2 separate regions of the Homo sapiens genome follow, and region 1 is linked to region 2. The links come from fine-mapping of genetic effects on plasma protein levels. Region 2 holds a variant in brackets. A gene starts in the other region. All regions are shown on their forward strands.

Region 1 (10,677 bases), not on the chromosome of region 2:
AAGTATATCATCCATCCAATATCTATGATTAAAATTGATATGGAAGAAAAATTACCACATAATAGAGCTTTTTAATCACCTACTGTGAAAAGACAAAATTCATCATTACATAATGGCACTGTACTTGTTCAACTTCCTCAACTATTTCAAACAGCAGAGAACCAGGAGGAAGTTTTTTCTTTTTTTTTTTTTTTGTAAAAAAGCCTTTAAACAACAAAAATAAATGTCAAAAAGGTCACGCAATAAAACTTACAGGGAAACTTACAGGAAAGTCCCTTTAGTCTGCAGTTAGAGCCTATTTACTCTTGGACACTGTTCTAAATATTGTGGTTATCTGTTTTTGATAAAACAGAGATTTGAAGCTGCCACCTAAAAATGATGGCGAGGGGACTGGGCACCTTTTTTAATTTTCCATTTTTAATTTAAATTTTGTTAGATACAGGAGCATTGACAGTAGGAAGAGAAAGCTGGCACTGATAAAAAGAGATGGAAAATCCATAAACACAAGATACCGGCAAAAGGGCACGACCAGCAGACCAAAGTAAATTGCCCCACATGCCACAAAAGCCCTTGAGAAAAAGAACACATACAATAACTGATGTTAATAAGACCAACCGTAGCGAAGAGCGGCATATTCCAAATCAAAATTCAGAATGGCTAAAGAAAATGAGAAAAAAATGATACGCATGCTCTTAATCTATGAGTAAACTAAAAATCACTCACCAACAACACAGGTAGAAGAGGCATTCCTCCACCAACAACTTTGTCATTGACATCTCTTTGTGCTGTATGCAACAGACAAAGTAGGTTTTGTTTTGTTCCTGGGTGTATGATTCTTTCTGCTACAACTCAGAAGCACCGTCCCAGAACTTAATCATTCCACAATAGGCATTCTCATCTAAAACCAGTGTGCACAAAATATGAGTATTTTTCACCATGGTCATACAACAAGTATACAGGCCAGACACCCTCCAAGCAAGTCAATGTTATCTTTTAATCTCTTTCCTCAAGTTAAATCTGAAGACTCTTGTTTTCATAAGTGAGACAGGGTCAGAAGTAAGGTTAAAAATTAAGTATAGTATATGAAGTCAACTTATAATATTAGAGGATAAAACTTTGTACAGTAAAAGTGGCAAGAATTGCAATCCAATGGTAGGTCAAAAACCAGATACCTAACAATAGTGTAAATGACACTAACCCTTCAAAGCTAATTCTGAACCATGTCCACATGATCCAGTCTAAATCCATGTATGCAGCATTGGCTACAGCAATCAATTTCCAATTCTACCTCCTCTTGAAATACCAAGTTAATATTAAAACTGAGCAGCCCGAGGTACCTGATTGAGTAATCACCATTAGGGACTTTAGAATACTCAAGAAAAGAGAGTATCATGAGGAGGGGTCCTTGGAGACAAGAATGAGCTGCTACAGTCATAATATATCAATTTGGACATTTCAGAGTTAGAGAAGACCTGTCACAAAACGATGCAATGCACAAACTGGGCCAATGGGATCTTCTACGTGGTATCCTCAAGGAGGGTTCGTATTTACAGGACTGTACAACTGTCAAAATTGAGACAGCAACAGGGCAATCAAAATTCAATCATAATTCAGTATGTGGGCAAAAGATTACCCACATAATGGAAAATTTGAAAGACAAAAAGAAGAAGAAGTAGAAGTAGTAGTAGTAACGGTAATGGTAGTAGCTCTAACAAATCTGGTTACATTCCAGGGGAATCTTCTTCAGCACCCACCTGTTACCCTCAAATCTTGAAACATTTACGTATAAAAATCAACCTGAGCATGTGCAAGAAAATAGCTCTATATTGCCCCCTAGTGCTGGCCAGTGCCACTTCTCCTTGGGCTAAAAACTACAAGTAGTTCCTCTACTTCTAGTTACTTCCTGCTGCCATCCTTAACATAGACCAACCCCCAAACATAGCCTAATCCTCTACCCACAGATTAGGAAACAAGCAGCAATTTTTAGCATCATGCATCTTAGGAATGGAAATGGCCCAGCCTCAGATGGCAACAGAATGTGTGTGGCCTGGCTTAATGAACTCATCTCTCCTGGAGGTGTGAATCTACTTGGGTAAAGTGGCCTATGACCACATGCTGCATGACAGCTCTGGGACCCTTACAAAGTGATGATAGCATGGGGATCACAAGAGAGAACTAAAAGGAAAGGACAAAGAGAAGCACAGGTCAGCAAAGAGATTCGGGCAGATGCCAAGAGAGGCTTGATAAGACAAGGCAATAGGAGAAATGATATGGGACAGGAACAATAAAAAACAGAAGCCAGGAAGCCAGGAATATTGTGCATTGTTGTCATTATGGAGGAGCTTGGCTAGTAAGAAGCAATATTTTGAACTGGACATTTATTTTACATGAGAAAGAACAAAGGTTGGTCTGATGTGTTTCCTGCACGGGTACAGCTGGTGCTGTGGCTCCTTTGATCACTTTCCCCCAGACCTCTGCAGCTACTGTGATTAGAGATACATCCCTAGGCTGCCCTTTGATCAGCAGCTCAAGGAGCCTGCAGGTGCCATGTGGCATCACATTAGCAAGTTGTAAGAAGCACCACACTAATATTAGCTGATAAATGTGATACTATGTCTTGCTGCGCAACAGCAAATACAAATAACGTTTGCAAAAGTCGGCAGAATCCTTATTTTATCTACTTTTATACCCTAAAACTTTCTGTGCTTTCTTAAACATGAACACTTCATAGAGTTTAAATTCAAAGTTGAAGTCTTGAAACACCCCAATATGAAAAGGAAAAAAAATCACTCTGACTTAAAACTATAGCACATCCTATCTTAATTTTGTAGGTATGCCACTTGTGTTCATTTTGCATGGTTAATCAAGTGACAGAATCCTTGCATTCTGAATAGATGATATACAAAGCAGTAAAAACATGTATATTCCTTTTCAAATTACAGTAAGAGCCACCATTTGTAAACAGGGCGTTAAATATTCCAATTTTAGACAGCCTAACATGAACATTGTGGTTTCATGTGCAGTATAAAATTTCTATTTACAAAGTATTCTCAAAAATGACTTCATAATGGTAGATGAAGAGAAAAAGAGTTTAGAAATTGAATGATGTAAATCATATGGGTTCAGAGGCTAAGCAAATTACACACCCTGAAGCTGCCCTGGCTTTATGAAAGGAGCCTTTCTCCAGCTCTGTGCAATCCCAGCCCAAGGGAACTTGCATCTGAGAGTTTTCTAAACATTTCAGGTACACTTGAAAGCTGAAAGTAATTCTCATTTCCTATGCAGGATTAAGTCGTTTCCAGCACACACAAAATAGCAGTCATTCACCAACACATACAAAAACACACCACCAGAAAGGTAAGGACTTCAGAGTACAAAGGCAAGTTTAAAAAACAAAAACTAGGGAGCAAGAGAAATACACTTTTTAATTCCTCTAAAAACGACCACACAGCCTCTTGACCTCTATATTTCCTATCTACTCATTGATTAATTGATGACTTCGACCTAGAGTGCTTCAATTAATGCGGCTGATATATTTCCTGACCGACCCCCCTCGCCCTCCCCAAATCTGAGTAAAGTCAAACATGCCAAGGCTCATTCATTTTGGATTCGTTTTTAGAGGCAGTTCTTGAACTTCTAACTTTAGCAATGAGCGAACCTGCAATGTGCATTTGAAATGACGTTCACAATCGCTCCCAGAATGTCCTCACTCAGCAGTGGCACTCACGTTGCCCTCTTGGAGCTTTGTGGCAGCTCCCGAAGTTGCAAACTACACTTAACCTTTAACAGTCCATGCCAATGAACGCAGCGCACATTTGCATGTAATGAGAGACCAAAGATACCTTCACAGTCTGGTATATATCACATACCAACGCACAATGCCAACGTTAACACACACAGCGAGAAACAAGCAGGGGGAGAATGGGGGAAAGACTCACCGTTCTGTTCCTTGTTGCTGGAAAACTGGAATTTACTACTCAGGTTGGATTCCGCCTGAGTCCCCTGTCTCTGGCCGGCCAGGGCAGATGTCAGCAGGAGAAGCCCGAAGAGGCTCATTTGGCTGACTGGGGTGAGAGCTCACTCACGGCGGGCACTTTGGAAGCAGCGACTCCCGAGTCTCTTTCACCACCGCCAGGGGAAGGCTGCACTGGGGTGGAAGCGCCGAGCCTGCTCTGGCAGCAGAGAATCGCAGGGTAGTTTCCACATAATCCCATCCAAAACTTTTTCCTAGAGCCCTCTTCTGTGTCTCCAGTTTTTGAAAAGGATCAAAGCAAAACCTGGACCTGAACCAGTTTCCCAAGGTTTAAACAAATCCTGAGCTGTGGCGAAGTGGTGGGGGTGGGGGTGAAGGCGAGGGAGGAATGAGGGGGTGGGGACGCGGGGGAGCGGCGAGAAGTCCCCAGCAAGTTGCTGGGAGCACCTGTCAGTTCGGGGGACAGGACAGAGGCGAAAACTCAAGGGTTGCCCGCAGCCAGACTGGAAGCCAAGTCGGCGGCGAGCAGTTTCTGATCAATAACAAAGCTGCCAATAGATGCGGCTCTCCGGGCGCCCCTCTCCCCCGCCCCACCCCCCACCCCCGAAGGGGGAGGGGGAAGAAACAAGGCGAGGGCGCCGCGGCGGGTCCCACGGGCCGGGGCGCCGGAGCGGGGCCGGGGGGCTCCGGGCCGACGGCGGCCCGGGCGCAGGCGGAGAGAGGCCGCGGGGCTCCCGCTCCTCAGCCCGGAGCGCAGTTGGCCCCGGGTTCGGAGCGCCGCAGCACGGATTCCGGCACCTGGCTTGAGTTTTCCGCGACCAAAGTTCACCTTGTTCGGGCTCGTCCCCCGCTCCTCAAAGCCTGGGGCAATTCGGCCGCTCGGGGTCACCGCGGGGCTCCGGTTGTTCCCCGTCCCCTCCCCCCACGCCTCGGGCTCCGCGCTAACCTCGGGGCTACGCGCGGCGTCTCCGCACGGGGTGAAGAGGGAAGGCCGGGGCGGCCGGGAGGATCCGGCTTGTCCCCTCCCCTTCTCTACCTTCCCCCCGCCGGGCGGCAGACAGGAGGTGGGGGCCGTGGGCCGAGCCCGGGCGGAGCGCGCGCCTGGCGAGCGGGGGCGGCTCAGCGGCTCTCCCGCAGGCGGCCGATGGGGCGGGCGGGGGTCAGCGCCTCTGGGAGGGGCAGCCCTGGGACGCGTCCGCGCGAGCGGGCTTGGCCGCCCACTGGCTGTCAACAGGTGCTGCGCAGACAGGGGGTGCTGCGGGACTCGCTGTGGGCAAGACCCCGGTGGCCCAGGAGAGGAACGCGGCCAAGGCGGCCCCTGCTTTCCCTTCCACGGAACACCTCTAACCCCAAATACAGAGCACGATGGGTGGTGAAGGGTGCTGCAGAAGTAAGTGGGAAAGAACTTCCTGCAGCTCTCCTTCTCCCGCCCCCTGTCGCCTGACTTGTCATTAGTTTCCAGGAGGGCTCCCCACTCCCTAAGGTCTTTGCTAGGACCCTTGGCCAGAGTTTCAGAACAGAAGGAAGAAGGGAAATGAATTCAAAGGCTTTCCTCCAATTTCCAGCTCCGTAAAGCAGGACAAATAAAGCAAAAGTAAAGGCAGCCAAAATAACATCCATTTAACAAGTACTATATTTACTGAATGCCTACTATGTCGGGCACTGTTTAGAGGTTGGAGCCGTAGCAGTGAAAACAGACAAAAGTCCCTGCCCTCGTGAAGCATACGTAGTAGTTGGGCAGCATTAAGCTAATAGCAAGCTCTTCTGAGAATGGTGTCTAAGGGACTCAGAATGATCCTGCAACCTTGGACTTTCCTACAATACAGCCTCTAACAAAACTAGGCTGCCCTGAACCCCTGGTGATAGAATTGTTTACATTTACACCAAAAAGGTCGAGAAAGAACTGAAATCTCTTGTGGCTTGTGTTCAGGCTGACTTGGAGAGAGAGGCCGATGCTTTAAGACCTAAAGTTCTCATGAGGTAGTCTGAAATGAAACACACATGCCAAGCAGGGCTTATGGTGGTTCCATGTCTGCTAAATATGTCTGTGACAGGATCCAACGTGCTTTCTTTGTGGAGAAGCAGAAAATCATTGTCAATGTGTTAAAGGCACAAGCAGAGAGTCAGAAAAGTTGAATTTTAAAATGAAGCTATTTTTGAGTAATAATCAAAATGAAAACAAGGAAGTGCCATGGCAGGCAAATCAGCAATATCACCCAACTTCTTGTGGAAAAAAAGTCAATGCAAACAATTCGACCATCAAGAACACTTGGGCTGGAACAGAAAACCAAAATAGCAATGTCCCTGAAACTAAGGAGTGGCATTTGGGCAAGAACATATTCTTACTGGACCAAACCAGGGGCTGATCCTTCTTCAGTGGTGAGGAAAATGCCAAGCCCTCTTCTTATATGCGAACACCAACTGGGGCCAACCAACCAGACCTTTCTGCTTGGAATATCCTAGTCTTCTTGTTTTTCCCTTTTAGAAACCTTTGAAAACTTCACCCATCTGTCTCATTCTTGAAAATTTCACCCGCCTGTCTCATTCATTCATTCTTATCCCTTTACCACTTCTATCTACAGAGTACTAAATATACACTAAAGGCAAATAAGGCCTGATCTTTGACTTTAAGGCATTTACAGTTTAGTGGACAGAAGGTTTTTTATCAAGTATGGTATTTTATTCGAGTTAGCAGCTCCACAACACCAGTGTGACTCCATATTTGCATAATGTGTTCCAAAAATATTTTGTAAATTTGTGAGGGTGAAGGGTTATTCCCAATTTTAATAACATAATGGGACTTAAATAAAGGGCATGCCTTATGAATCCATTGTAATCTATTTTTCATAAAATTCATTATTCTCCAGTTTTTCTAATTTTGTAAGTTTAGTTTTCTAATCAGCACTTTTCTAAATGAAATTGTTATATGTCCATATAGTTGAGTTTCCTGACCACCCACATAGAGGTGGGGTGTGTGTGTGTGTGTGTGTGTGTGTGTGTGTGTGTGTGTCTGCAAATGTAATCCATTTGCTCTCAGGAGATTGGAAGGGTGATGACTACTCTTTATTTTGTATCATTTCATATTGGCTAGAATATTGCTTGGCACAGGGGGATAATAAATAAACACTCTTGACTGACTGACAGGTTTCTTTATTGGAGTCACTTACATTCTCCCTGGAATTTCAGTGCGATAGTTGTATTTGAAAAGTTACAGATGATCTAGAATAATACTCTACCTCTGCGTTTCACCTCATCCATATTCTACAGATTGATTTGACAATCGCCTTATAAATAAAGTCAGCCAGGTGTTCCTGAATGACCCCTAGACAAAATCACATCCACATTGGCCAATTTCCTTTCAATGTACTTGCATTGTCATTTCTTGAACTGCTCTTGCCCTTGACGTAGTTGATTCTTTTAACACATTATCCTCTGCCTGTCTTCCTGCTCTATTTTGCTTGTTAACCTTTTCTAGAAAAATGAAATCTTTGCATTGAAAGTAAATTTTATATAATCCAGAGTCTGTGCAATTACTAAACAATATATTTTAAATGAATATGGCTTTGTTTTGGCCAAAGGCATTTTCCTTGATGAAAGGCATCTGTTCCGCCAACCAAGAGAAAATAATTTCAGACATTCTTTGTGGTTTTCATGTTTTCTTAAACCTTAAGAAGGAGTGCCCATTGCTGCTGCATGCATGAAGAGTATTACCACAAATTCTTACTAAAGAATACACTTGGTGGTTAACAATGATAATTTGGGGGAGGGGGTGTCACTACTAAATGTTTTTAAGTGAAATAAGATTTTAAAGCAACCTACTCCTTTAGCTAGCCACTTAACACTCAAAGGGGCGGGAACCATGGGGACATATTTTTGCCACCAAAAAAAAAAATCTACGTTTTCTTGCTCTTTATTTTTCTGTTTTGATCCTAACACACACACACACGTGCATGCACACACACACAGAGGCATATGTGCAAAGTTATTTTAAGACTTTTCCTGGAACATTTCAGTATTTTAGTGGCAGATAATTGAGCATGATTTCCTGAAGTTCAGAAAGCTTTCTTCTACCTAAATACTCATTGTGTATTGAGAATGGCTGACAAGTAACAAATATATATATATATATATATATATATATATATATATATATATATATATATATATATGGCAGGACTGGAGATATCATTAGTAGTCAAAGTAAACGTCCACAGACCACAGCAGGAATAAAGACTGTGTTAGGAAAAAAAGAAATAAATAAATAAATGAAGTCAGTAGTCTGTCTTAGAGTCATCCTCTTCTCTTTCCACTTTTCCCACTACCTCATCTTGAGAAATACGACCTTGCTATCTCTAGGTTATGAAGATATATATCAATACTCTGTTTTTCCAACCAAGAAATGAGACACTTTTCATTACATTTTATTCTTCTAGCATCAGGTAACTTTTACCTCCCCAGTGTATCAGCTGCTAATCTGAGAAGGGTTTACCTGCTGAGGCTGAGGGTAGAGGGTTTTGCTAAGGCTCTGCTCTAGAAGAAGACACACTTTGTCAGTCTGACTTTCCTGGGGAATGGATCTGGAGGATGGGGAGTTAAGAGAAGTGTGACCTGCAGAAATGGACTTTAGTTGGCTCTCTGTGGCCTTTTCCTTTGAAGTAAAGCTGCTATTTCCTTATTGAAATCTAAGATTTTCCAAAATCTTAGAAGTGTTTGTCTGACTCTGAACTCAGAGGGAGTAACTAGCCAGAAACAGCCGTAAAGAAAGAGAAGCCCTAGTAACCTTTGAACCACCACAACAAAAGATCATTTCACTGGGAGATGGGAGGTCAGGGGCTTAGTCTGGCTTTACCACTAATAAACAGTACAACCTTGATCTAGAAATCTTCTCTGCCCCTCAGTTTCCTTTTCCTTACATGAGGAATCGCCACTGGCTTCTGTCTTGATCCCCCTACTGCTTTAGAAATTCTCTGAGCTATTATAGATAATGATGGCAAGACTTTTTCATCTTCAGTGTGCTTCTGTGATAAAAAATTACTAGCACAAGTTTCCTAGCCTCATATCAGAGATGTCTTCGTGGCTGGCAAAAGAGATAATGAACAGGTTCTTCTTTCTAAACTTGCTCAACTAGAGCAGTACTATTGTATCTGTTATTGCCATAGTTTGAAAAACCAAGCTCTAATGGTAATCAAAAAGAAGAGGGGACAGAGTTTGGAAATCACTGGCTAGGGCAAGTATACAGGAATATCATGGAATTCAAGGAAACCAAATAAATCCCCAGGCCTTCAATAGGTGCAGGTATTCATATTTTACTTTTCAATATTTGGTTGTTATCATGCTAACAGCCTCGAAAGAGGCAAAGTGCAGTCCTAAGCGGAGTGTCAAGGTAAAAAGAAATAGCTATTGTACATAACTGAGTTGTAAACACTAAGGAAATAATATTGTTGTTAGCCAAGAACAGATGGTCAAACTCATACTGTTCTATTGAGTCACACTGGTGGAATGTGAAACAATCTGGAGAGCAAGGGGTATCCCCTAAGAACATGGACAGCAACACTATCTTTGTCCATATCTTAGAGTCAATAAGGTGTCATTTTTCTCTCTCTTGAAATCATTTGTAGGATATGAAGGCTGTTGTCCCCATTGTGACAAATCATAGTAAAGAGGTCAAGACACAGCTACAGACCCTCCTTTCTCAGATAGTGACCTTCTTATTTCAAAGGTCATGGGAGAAGGAGCCTTTCACTTTGTGATCATTGTTTCAAATGCAGTCCTTTCCTTGGCTACTAGCCTTTGTAAAAGAGGTGGATAGTCTCAGCCCACTACTTAACAGTGAACATCAAAAAGTATTGCTGGCTGGCTAGAAGAAAGGAAAATATGGCTTAACTAATCTAATATTAAAAGTATCCTCAACTGCTTTTGAAGTTCAAGATAGATCAACAGACCCCCCTTTCTATTATGATTATTACTATTTGCTTTCCTTATCATCTTTGCAGTAATAAATCTGCTTGTTTTCTTTTAAAGCAGACTTGCAACACTCTTAAGGGATCATTTTCTTTTCCCAAATTTTGTTTTTATCAGCACAATTTCCCTTTGTGTTTCCCTCATCCTCTGTACCACCTTCTCTTCTTTCTCATCATCTAAATCTTCTTTGAATTGTCCTACAAGAAATTAGGAGGACAAAAAGCCATGTTTTCCTCTTGCAGGCTACTCAAAAAGATTTATAGTTATACCAAGGCAAACCAAGGAAAATTAAAGTGAGGGGAGAATTACTTTTGCTTAAATTTATCTTTAAAAGCACCTACTATGTCCCAGGAACTGTAGATTCATTAAAATATATTAATATTTTCTCATTTAATCTTCCAGCTTCTCCTTTAAGGAAGGTCATAGGTTTCCCATTTTACGGCAGAGAAACTGAACCTTAAAGATGGCATTAATTTTCCCAGAGTGACAATATTAATGACAGGTAGAGTTAATATTTAACTCCAGGTCTTCTCCTTTTACTCCTTTTCAATTTGACACCTTTAAGCCCTGGACTTTGGACAAAAACATCTTACCTGAAGCTTTCTTACATTTCTCTTCTAAGTTTTCTTCACAATGACTGAATGTCTTCCCCTATGTTTAACCTGAGGTGTTCAAGAATACTACTACAACATTACACAGCTATCTGACTGGACAGCCTAAATAAAATGTTTGAGTCAAAATGA
Region 2 (10,286 bases):
TGTTAGCCAGGATGGTCTCGATCTCCTGACCTCGTGATCTGCCCGCCTTGGCCTCCCAAAGTGCTGGGATTACAGGTATGAGCCACCATGCCTGGCCCTGCCATTCTCCTTATTTTAAGGTCAAACAATTTGGGACTTAAATTACATGTGCAAAATTCTTTCACAGAAGCATCTACATTCATGTTTGACAGAATAACTGGGAGGTGTGCAAACACCAGGGGTAGAGATCTTGGGGCCATCTTAGCATTCTACCAACCACAGGAAGTGAGGCAAGAAAGCAAATGATTTAATGAGAAAAGTGCTAAACCAAGGGGCACTAAGATGTGCAGCTGGAACATGAGAAGAAGACGGGGTGCACATGTGCTGCCCAGCATCTGTCCTGGTTCGGTAATGACACTTTGATTTTTCCTTTAGCAACGACTCCTCTCTTACTTCTTCCATGGGCTCTAGTGCTGCCAACTCTACCCTCAGAGCTAGGGCTAGAGATGTGGCCTAGGTCTGGTCAATCAGAGCATGACATCTCTAATCCACAGTGATTGGTTCAGAGATAAGCATATACACAATTTAGGCCAATTAAAGTGCTAGCTTGGGACTTTTGCCAGAACTTTTGGGAAAGCAAAAAAGTTGCACTGGGGTTACTAAGCACAGAGCATGTGGGTCTGAACACATTGATGATCACCTTTGTCACTCTCTAGGGAGGGCCTGTTTGAGAATGAAGCCTACACATAGGAAAAGCAAAGCAAACAGGGCAGGAAGGATGGAAAGATGCTGTGGTAGACAGCCTCAAAGACAGCCCCCATTGATCCTCACCACCTAGGATTCATGCCCTTGTATGGTGTCTTCCCACATTGAGTTAGGGCTGTTCTGTGTGTCCATCAGAATATGACAGAAGTGGCTGGGTGTGGTGGCTCACACCTGTAATCCCAGCACTTTGGGATGCCAAGGCAGGCAGATCACTCTAGGTCAGGAGTTCAAGACCGGCCTGGCCAACGTGTTGGCCAAACCCCATCTCTATGAAAAATACAAAAATTAGCCGGGCGTAGTGGCGTGTGCCTGTAATCCCAGCTACCCGTGAGGCTGAGGCAGGAGAATCGCTTGAACCCAGGAAGTGGAGGTTGTAGTGAGCAGAGATTGTGCCATTGCACTCCAGCCTGGGCGACAGGGACTGTCTCAAAAAAAAAAAAAATATGGCAGAAGTGAGGGTGTTGGACTTCCAAGCCCAGGTCATAAAAGACATTGCAGTTTCTGCCTCGGTCTCTTAGGTTGCTCACTCTGGAGGAAGCCAGCCACTGTGTTGTGAGGACACACATGCAGCCCTGCAGAGAAGCCCATGTAGGGAGAAAGGAAAGCACCCTGCTGACAGCCAGTGCCAATTGGACAGCCACATGAATAAGCTGCCTTGGAAGTGGATACTGCAGCCCTCGCTGACATTTGGCTTGCAATCTTATGAAAGACCTCAAGGCAAAACTGACCATCAGAAACTGTGATAAATCATCATTAAATGTTGTTGCTTTAAGCCACAAGTTAGGGTGATTTGTTACACGACATTTGAGAACTAGTACTGATGGATTGATTTCTCATGACTTTGAGAGCCTACATCCTAAAACTAGAAGTATCCTTAAGACTTGGTCAGTTATGGCTAGGCACAGTGGCTCACGCCTGTAATCCCAACACTCTGGGAGGCTGGGGATCACTTGAGGATCACTTGAGCCCAGGAGTTCCAGACTGATGTAGGCAACATAGTGAGATCCCATCTCTCCAAAAAAATTTAACATTAGCCAGGCATGGTGGCGCGTGCCTGTAGTTCCGGCTACTTGTGAGTCTGAGGCAGGAGGATTGCTTGAGCCCAGAGGTCCAAAATGCTGTGAGCCGTGATTGTGCCACTGCACTCCAGTCTGGGAAGCAGACTGAGACTGTATCTCCAAAAAAAAAAAAAAATAGACTTCTCAGTTATATGAGCCAATAAAACCAATTTGAGTGGACTTCTGTCACTTTCAGTTATACAAAGTCCTAAGTTATACAAAGTAATTTATGGGAAATGAAGACTGAGTGTAGCAATTTATTAATTCTGCTGGAAGAGAGGCAGGCTGTGGAAGACTTCTTGGAACAGAAACACAGAAAGAGGAGGGCAGGAGAGGAGGGGCACCTTTCCAACCACTGGTTTCAAAGGTAACTGGTTTCAAAGTCATTGACGTGACAGCTGTTAACTCCATGATGAAAGTGAAACTATTAGATATATTGACGAGTCATTAAAGCGAAACTACCTTTGTCACCTTTTTTGTTGTTTCAAAGAGACTCGGTCTTATTAAGTTGCCCAGGCTAGCCTGGAACTTCTGGGCGCAAGTGATCCTCTCGCTTCATCCTCCTGAATAGCTGGGATTACAGGTTCATGCCATCATGCCTGGCTCTGTCAGTTCTTGATTGCTCCTGAGTATAGACCCTGGCCCTAAGGCCACTCCCACATTGGCTCCTTCCTCTTGGGGAGAAGGCAGCTGTTCCTCTACATGGAAGGGGCCTTTTGAACAGGTCTTCGCCACAAGTAGGGGTTTGCAGGCAGAGTGAGTAATACAACTGCACAGAA[G/GC]CCTGAATGCAGCGTGTCAAATGGGGAATGTGGTGAGCATAAGGTGCCTTGTAGGGAGTGTGAGATGAGGTGTCAGGTGGACATTAATGGTCATTTGGATGTTCAACATCCATCTCCCTTCCTCTTCCTCTCCCAGTTTCATTTTGTGATCACCCCTCCCCAGCTGTGGTGGTGAAAGGGTACTTTATTATTATTTTTATTTAGTTATTTATTTGAGATGGAGTCTCGCGCTGTCGCCCAAACTGGACTGCCATGGTGCGATCTCGGCTCACTACAACCTCCACCTCCCAGGTTCAAGTGATTCTCCTGCCTCAGCCTCCCAAGTAGCTGCCATTACAGGCCCACGCCACCATGCCCGGCTAATTTTTTGTCTCCTTAGTAGAGACCAGGGCTTCACCATGTTGGCCAGGTTGGTCTCGAACTCCTGACCTCATGATCTGCCCACCTCGGCCTCCCGAAGTGCTGGAATTACAGGCGTGAGCCACCACACCCGGCTGAAAGGGTACTTTCTAGAGACCATCTCCACTATGGAAGCCTAATGGACCAGACCAACCTCTCCCTACCATAGTATAGCCAGAGGGACCTAAACTCAGCCAATAGTGTTTTCTCCCAGGGCTCTGAATCCTGATCAAGCCACACAAGGATGGCAGGAAAAGCTGGAGGTCTGGCATTGCACCACCTGTGCCCTGACCAAATCATCCCGGCTACATGGCATTAAGTCAGGATGCCTTCCAAAAACCAAGCATATGCAGTAGGGCAATTCGAATTCATCATCCCATGTCACCAGATGTCTGGAGCAGCAGGACTCCAGGAACAGTGCTTTCAGTGGTTCAACAATGTCATCAAGAACCCAAGTTCTTTCTTTTTTTGTTTGTCTTCTGTGTGCAGACCTTCAGGCTGCCTGCCCTCATGGTCACAAGATGGCTGTCACAGCTCCAGGAATCACACTTCAACTCAATTATGTTCAAGCAAAGAAGAGGCACCTTCCCTTCCACTAGCTCCTTCTTAGGAATGAGGAACCCTCCCTCAAATCTCAAGCAGACCTCTCCTCATGCTTTCTTAGCTAGAACAGGCTCACATGACATCCCTAAGCCATGTTTGGCAAGGAAAAGGGGATCCCCATCACTGGCCTAAACCTATTAACCCTGGATCTGGGTCAGAGGCATGTGAGGTAAAGTGGCCACTGGAACAGAACTGGGACTCTGCAAACAGGGAAGAGCGGTGGCATGGATATTAGGTGGACAACTTCCGTGTCTGCTCAAGGGAAATCACTGTACTTCCTGCTTCCTAGTCTTCCAGTGGCTCTTAATTCCTGCACATTTCCAAGCCTATTCCTTCGAGCTGATGCCGTGAACTCCCGAAGACCTTCTCACAAAGTAAATTCCCTTTTGTTGAAGCAGCTAGAGTCATTTTCTGTTGCTTGCAACCAAGAGCTCTCTCTTCCTCATGCTCCCAGCCTACTTAGCCACCTAGTTCTGTTCATTCCACTATTTAAATATTTTTCTTTTTTTTCTTTTTTGAGGCAGGGTGTCAGTCTGTTGCTCAGGCTAGAGTGCAGTGACGTGATCATGGCTCACTGCAGCCTTAGCATCCCAGGCTCTAAGCAATCCTCCCACCTCAGCCTCCTAAGTAGCTGGGATACAGACGTGCAGCACCACACCCAGCTAATTTTTTAATTTTTTGTAGAGGTGAGGTGTCACTGTGTTCCCCAGGTTGGTCTCAAACTCCTGGGCTCAAGCTATCTCCTCAACCTCAGCTTCCCAAAGTGCTGAGATTACAGGTATGAGCCACCGCACCAGGCTACATAAATATTTCTCAAATCTCTCCATCTCTCTCAATTTCTACTGCCCCTTCTTTGACTTCCAGAAAATTCAAGGTAGCTACAGCTGTGAAACATAATTTGAGAGCCTGTGATGGATGTCTATCATTTCCTGTTTACCATTCATTCTCCCTGCTTCTAGAAATGGCCCTCATTGTTTCTTTGGGGAATCGCTCCTCCCCACCCTGCGTCAATATACATAAAATAAAGCCTACCCTATCCCTTGGCTGAGGGTGGAGTGGGCATTTGATCTAGACCTGGCCAATCGGAACACCACCTCTGTCTTCAGCGATTGGTTCAAATGAACACCTGAATTAGGTGGGCGTGGTGGTGCACGCCTGTGGTCCCAGCTACCTAGGAGGCTGAGGTGGGATGATGGCTTGAGCCTAGAAGGCAGAGGTTGCAGTGAGCCAAGATCGCACCACTGCACTCTAGCCTGGACGACAGAGCCAGACTCTATCTCAAAAGAAAAAAAAAAAGAACACCTAACCCACATCGAACCAGTGAGAGGCAGCCCCAGGATTTTTGCTGGAATTATAAAGCTAGAGGCCTTCTCTTTCCATGGAGGTTGTCACATTCCTAACAAATGAGCCTGGAGCTGCTGGCAGCCATCTTTAACATCTCAGAGGGAGAACCTACCTGAGAATAAAGATAATAAAGATTAAAAGCAGAGCCAGGGTATGGGCGCTGGGTGCAGTGGCTCACGCCTGTATTCCCAGCACTTTGGGAGGCTGAGGTGGATGGATCATCTGAGGTCAGGAGTTCGAAACCAGCCTGGCCAACATGGTGAAACTCTGCCTGTACTAAAAATACAAAAAAATTAGCCGGGTGTAGTGGCGCGCCTGTAACCCCAGCTACCTGGGAGGCTGAGGCAGGAGAATTGTTTGAACCTGGGAGGCAGAGGCTGCAGTGAGCTGAGATTGCATCACTGCACTCCAGACTGGCAAAAGAGTAAGACTCCGTCTCAAAAAAAAAAAAAAAAAAAGAGTGGAGCCAGGGTATGAAAAAGACAGATTTTAGGCCGGGCATCGTGGCTCACGTCTGTAATCCCAGCACTTTGGGAGGCCAAGGCGGGTGGATCACGAGGTCAAGAGATCGAGACCATCCTGGCCAACATGGTGAAACCCCGTCTCTACTAAAAAAAAAAAAAAAAAAAAAAATTAGCCTGGAGTGGTGGCACGCAACTGTAATCCCAGCTACTCAGGACGCTGAGGCAGGAGAATTGCTTGAACCAGGGAGGCAGAGGTTGCAGTGAGCCGAGATTGCGCCACTCCACTCCGGCCTGGTGACAGAGTGAGACTCCATCTCAAAAAAAAAAAAAGAAAAAGAAAAAGAAAAAGACAGATTTTGAATGACACCATTTGAGACCCAGCATCCAGAGACGCTTGAAGTCAGAACCACCACCTATGCTTTTCTGTTACCTGAACCCCAAAATTCCTTTTTTTGCCTGAGCTAATTTTAGTTTCAACCAAAAGTCCTAACTTATGCTGCCAGACTTCATACACTGTTACCAGGAAGTTCCCAAAACAAAACAAAACAAAACAAACCCCTTCATGTGATCATGATGGGTAAGTCAGTAGTTTAAAGGACGGGAAAATACTGACCTTAGAAGCAGGGTAGGGAAGCACTGGACTTGAGTCAGGAAGGCTTCCACTCCCACCTTGGCCACCGCCCCGCAGTGTGATGACGGCTAAGGAGCTCGGCCTCTCTCAATCTGCATTGCCACATCTCTGTAGGGAGGGATGGGCACTCATGCTGTCTGGTAGACTTGTTGAGGTGTTTGAATGGGATTGCATGTGAAAAGGCAGAGCCTGGCGTGTGGTTGGAGCTCAATCCATAGAGGTGTACAAAGAAACTTTCCAATGTGGATACATTTTTCTCTATAATTTCTGCACACTTGTCCCCAGATCTTCTTGCACATCTGGCTGTCTTCCACCAATTGCTGTAGACCAGAGCAGAAAGGCAGTGTCCCCTTGACCTGGCTTCTGTCTTTCTGCAGCTGGGCGGTGGGTCCATGGGATGAGAAACCATTGAGTCCTGCTCACAGGTTTCTGGATACACACAGACACACACAAATCCCCTTCCTCTTTATTTTTATTTTTTTGAGACAGAGTCTCGCTCTGTCTCCCAGGCTGGAGTGCAATGGCACGATCTCGGCTCACTGCAACCTTCGCCTCCCAGGTTCAAGCGATTCTCCCTCAGCCTCCTGAGTAGCTGGGATTACATGCACCTGCCACCACATCCAGCTAATTTTTGTATTTTTGGTAGAGACGGGGTTTCACCATGTTGGTCAGGATGGTCTCAAATTCCTGACCTTGTGATCTGCCCACCTCGGCCTCCTGAAGTGCTGGGATTACAGGTGTGAGCCACCATGCCCGGCCCCCACTTCCTCTTTAGCAGGGACTTGGGACATAGATTTCATGTGGTTGCAGAACTGCCTGTTCAAGGAGACGTTGGGGGGATCAGAAGGTACCCAGCCTGCCATCCTTCACACCTTGGCTGGTGGTACTGTTGCTTCCCCAGTCAGACTGTTGAACTGTTGAGATACAGTCTTTTTTTTTTTTTGAGATGGAGTCTCGCTCTTGTCGCCCAGGCTGGAGTGCAATGGCACGATCTTGGCTCACTTCAACTTCCGCCTCCCGGGTTCAAGCAATTCTCCTGCCTCAGCCTCCCAAGTAGCTGGGATTACAGGTGCCTGCCACCACACCCGCCTAATTTTTGTATTTTTAGTAGAAACGGTTTTCACCATGTTGGCCAGGCTGGTCTTGAACTCCTGACTTCAGGTGATCCACCCACCTCGCCCTCCCAAAATGCTGGGATTACAGGCATGAGCCACCGCACCCGGCCAAATTTAATTAATTTAAGTAGCCACATGTGACTAGGTGCTACCATGTTGGACAGTGCAGCTCCTGATGGAAGCAGGAAGAAGCTCAGCGTGTGGCTGCTGGTGCACACCGAATGAGAAGGAGAGGGCATGAAATAACGCTGGAGAGGGAAGCAGGGCCCGGATCAAGTTGGGCCATTGTGGGCCACGGGGAAGAACATAGGGTTTTTAACATTTTAATTGTTTATTTTTTGTAGAGCTAAGTCTCACTATGTTGTTGCCCAGGCTGGCCTTGAAATCCTAGGATCAAGTGAGCCTCCCACCTCATCCTCCCAAGTAGCTGGGACTACAGGAGGTTTTTTTAAATTATTATTTATTTATTTATTTATTTTTTTGGAGACAGTTCTTGCTCTGTTACCCAGGCTGGAGTGCAATGGTATGATCATGGCTCACTGCAGCCTCAAGGAGGTTTTATTTTTTAAGTGTAATGAGAAGTGTATTAATTATCTATGGCTGCATAACAAATTGTCCCAAAATTTAGCAGCTTAAAATGACATTTATGGAGACTGATTTCAATGATAACTCCAGTTCTCTCACGTGGGCCAGCCTCACATCAATTAAACTCTTTTTTTTTTTTTTTTTTTGAGACAGAGTCTCGCTCTGTTGCCTAGGCTGGAGTGTATAGTGACACGATTTTGGCTCACTGCAACCTCTGCCTCCTAGGTTCAAGGGATTCTCCTGCCTCAGCCTCCCAAGTAGTTGGGACTACAAGTGCCCACCACAACACCTGGCTAATTTTTATATTTTTAGTAGAGATGGGGTTTCACTATGTTGGCGAGGCTAGTCTCGAACTCCTGACCTCATGATTGGCCTGCCTTGGCCTTCCAAAGTGCTGGGATTACAGGCGTGAGCCACTGCTCCTGGCCAATTAAGCTTTTATTTTATTTTTTTGAGACAGAGTTTCTCTCTTGTTGCCCAGGCTGGAGTGCAATGGCACGATCTCGGCTCACCGCAACCTCTGCCTCCCGGGTTCAAGCAATTCTCCCGCCTCAGCCTCCTGAGTCGCTGGGATTACAGGCATGTGCCACCACGCCTGGCTAATTTTGTATTTTTAGTAGAGATGGGGTTTCTCTATATTGGTCAGGCTGGTCTTGAACTCCTGACCTCAGGTGATCCACCCACCTTGGCGTCCCAAAGTGCTGGGATTACAGGTGTGAGCCACCACTCCCGGCCATAAACTCTTTTTAAAAAAGATATTTATGGGTCACAGTTTCTATGGGTCAGGAACCCGGCACTTTTTAACTGAGTGCCACTGGATCAGCATCTCTCACAAGGCTGCATCGGAGGGTCAGCTGAGGCTGCCGGGGGAAGGATCCACTTCCAAGTTCACTTACAAAGCTGTTGGCTAGAGACATCAGTTGCCTGCCACATAGGGTCTCTCCATCTCACAACCTAACAGGTGGTTTCTCTCAGACTGAGCCAGTGAGGGAGCAAGAGGAGTTACGTAAGATGGTAGCCACAATCTTTTAGTAATCTCATGTTGGAAATGACATTCCATCACTTTGGCTGCATTCCTTCCATTGGAAGTGAGTCAAGCTGGGTGCCATGGCTCATGCCTGTAATCCCAAGACTTTAGGAGGCCAGGGAGGGAGGATTGCTTGAGCCAGGAGTTTGAGACCAGCCTGGGCAACAGAGGGAGACCCTATCTCTACAAAAAAATTAATTAGTTGGGTATGGTGGCATGCGCATGTAGTCCCAGCTACTCGGGAGGCTGATGTAGGCTGATCGATTGGGCCCAGGAGGTGGAGGCTGCAGTAAGCTGTGATCGAGCCTGAGTGACAGAGCAAGACCCTGTCTCTTAGGGAAAAAAAACGTGGCCCGGCCCAGTGGCTCACGCCTGAAATCCCAGCACTTTGGGAAGCCGAAGCAGGCAGATCACCCAAGGTCAGGAGTTTGAAACCAGCCTGGCTAACATGGTGAAACCTCATCTATACTAAAAATACAAAAATTAACCAGGCGTAGTGGGCAGCGCCTGTAATCCCAGCTACTCCGGAGGCTGAGGCAGGAGAATTGCTTAAACCCGGGAGGCGGAGTTTGCAGTGAGCCGAGATTGCACCACTGCACTCCAGCCTGGGCGACAGAGCGAGACTCTGAAAAAAAGAAAAGGCCGGGGGCAGGCCAGGCCTGGTGGCTCACGCCTGTAATCCCAGCACTTTGGGAGGCAGAGATGGGCAGATCACTTGAGGTCAGGAGTTCAAAACCAGCCTGGCCAACATGGTGAAACCCCATCTCTACAAAAATTAACTGGGCGTAGTGGCACGCGCCTGTAGTCCCAGCTACTCGGGAGGCTGAGGCAGGAGAATTGCTTGAACCTGGGAGGCAGAGGTTGCAGTGAGTGGAGATCAAGCCACCGTACTCCAGCCTGGCAACAGAGCGAGACTTCCACAGAGCGAGACTCCATCTCAAAAACAAAAAAAAAGAAAAAAAGAAAAAGAAAAAATGCCGGGTGTAGTGGCTCACACCTGTAATCCCAGCACTTTGGGAGACCGAGACGGGCGGATCAGGAGTTTGAGACCAGCCTGGCCACATGGTGAAACCCCGTCTCTACTAAAAATACAAAAAATTAGCCAGGCGTGGTGGTGAGTGCCTTTAATTCCAGCTACCCGGGAGGCTGAGGCAGGAGAATTGCATGAACCCAGGAGGTGGAGGTTGCAGTGAGCTGAGATCATGCCATTGCACCCCAGCCTGGGTAAGGAGAGCAAAACTCCATCTCAAAAAAAAAAAAAGTGAGTCAGGAGGTCCACCTGACACTTAAGGGGATCTTAAGGCTGTGAATACCAGGAAGAAGCAGAGATCCACGGACCAGGAAGAAGCAGAGATCCACGGACCAGGAAGAAGCAGAGATCCACGGACCAGGAAGAAGCAGAGATCCACGGACCAGGAAGAAGCAGAGATCCACGGACCAGGAAGAAGCAGAGATCCGTGGTGGCAGGGGTACCTTAGAGGTTGCCTACCACAGGCAGCCACTGGAGAGTTCTGAGTAAGAGTGACAGGATCCGGCT

Alleles and levels. Positions count from the first base shown, and alleles are read on the strand shown. Strength reflects both the effect of a copy and how common the allele is.
In carriers of allele GC in region 2, the plasma level of the protein whose gene starts at base 4,952 in region 1 tends to be lower than with G alone (weak association).

The links. A credible set is the group of variants that fine-mapping cannot tell apart. PIP is the posterior inclusion probability: the model's chance that the variant is causal. The UK Biobank Pharma Proteomics Project read protein levels with antibody pairs (Olink). The fine-mapping took linkage between variants from a reference panel, not from the people measured, so its PIPs are less certain.
Region 1: it holds the start of PDGFC, and the variant in region 2 is the best candidate, but not a certain one, in a credible set for the plasma level of the PDGFC protein (UK Biobank, PIP 0.58).

What each region holds. Positions count from the first base shown.
Region 1 is chr4:156,966,848-156,977,524 of GRCh38, forward strand. It overlaps PDGFC (platelet derived growth factor C), which reads right to left and starts at 4,952. Exons shown (of 6, transcript NM_016205.3): 1 at 3,939-4,952. The coding sequence starts at 4,056. RefSeq lists an enhancer at 4,739-5,239.
Region 2 is chr5:177,410,502-177,420,787 of GRCh38, forward strand. No RefSeq gene overlaps it. Among named protein-coding and RNA genes, the nearest start is that of F12, 6.1 kb to the left of the region's middle. The variant G/GC (reference allele first, on the strand shown) is at 2,582.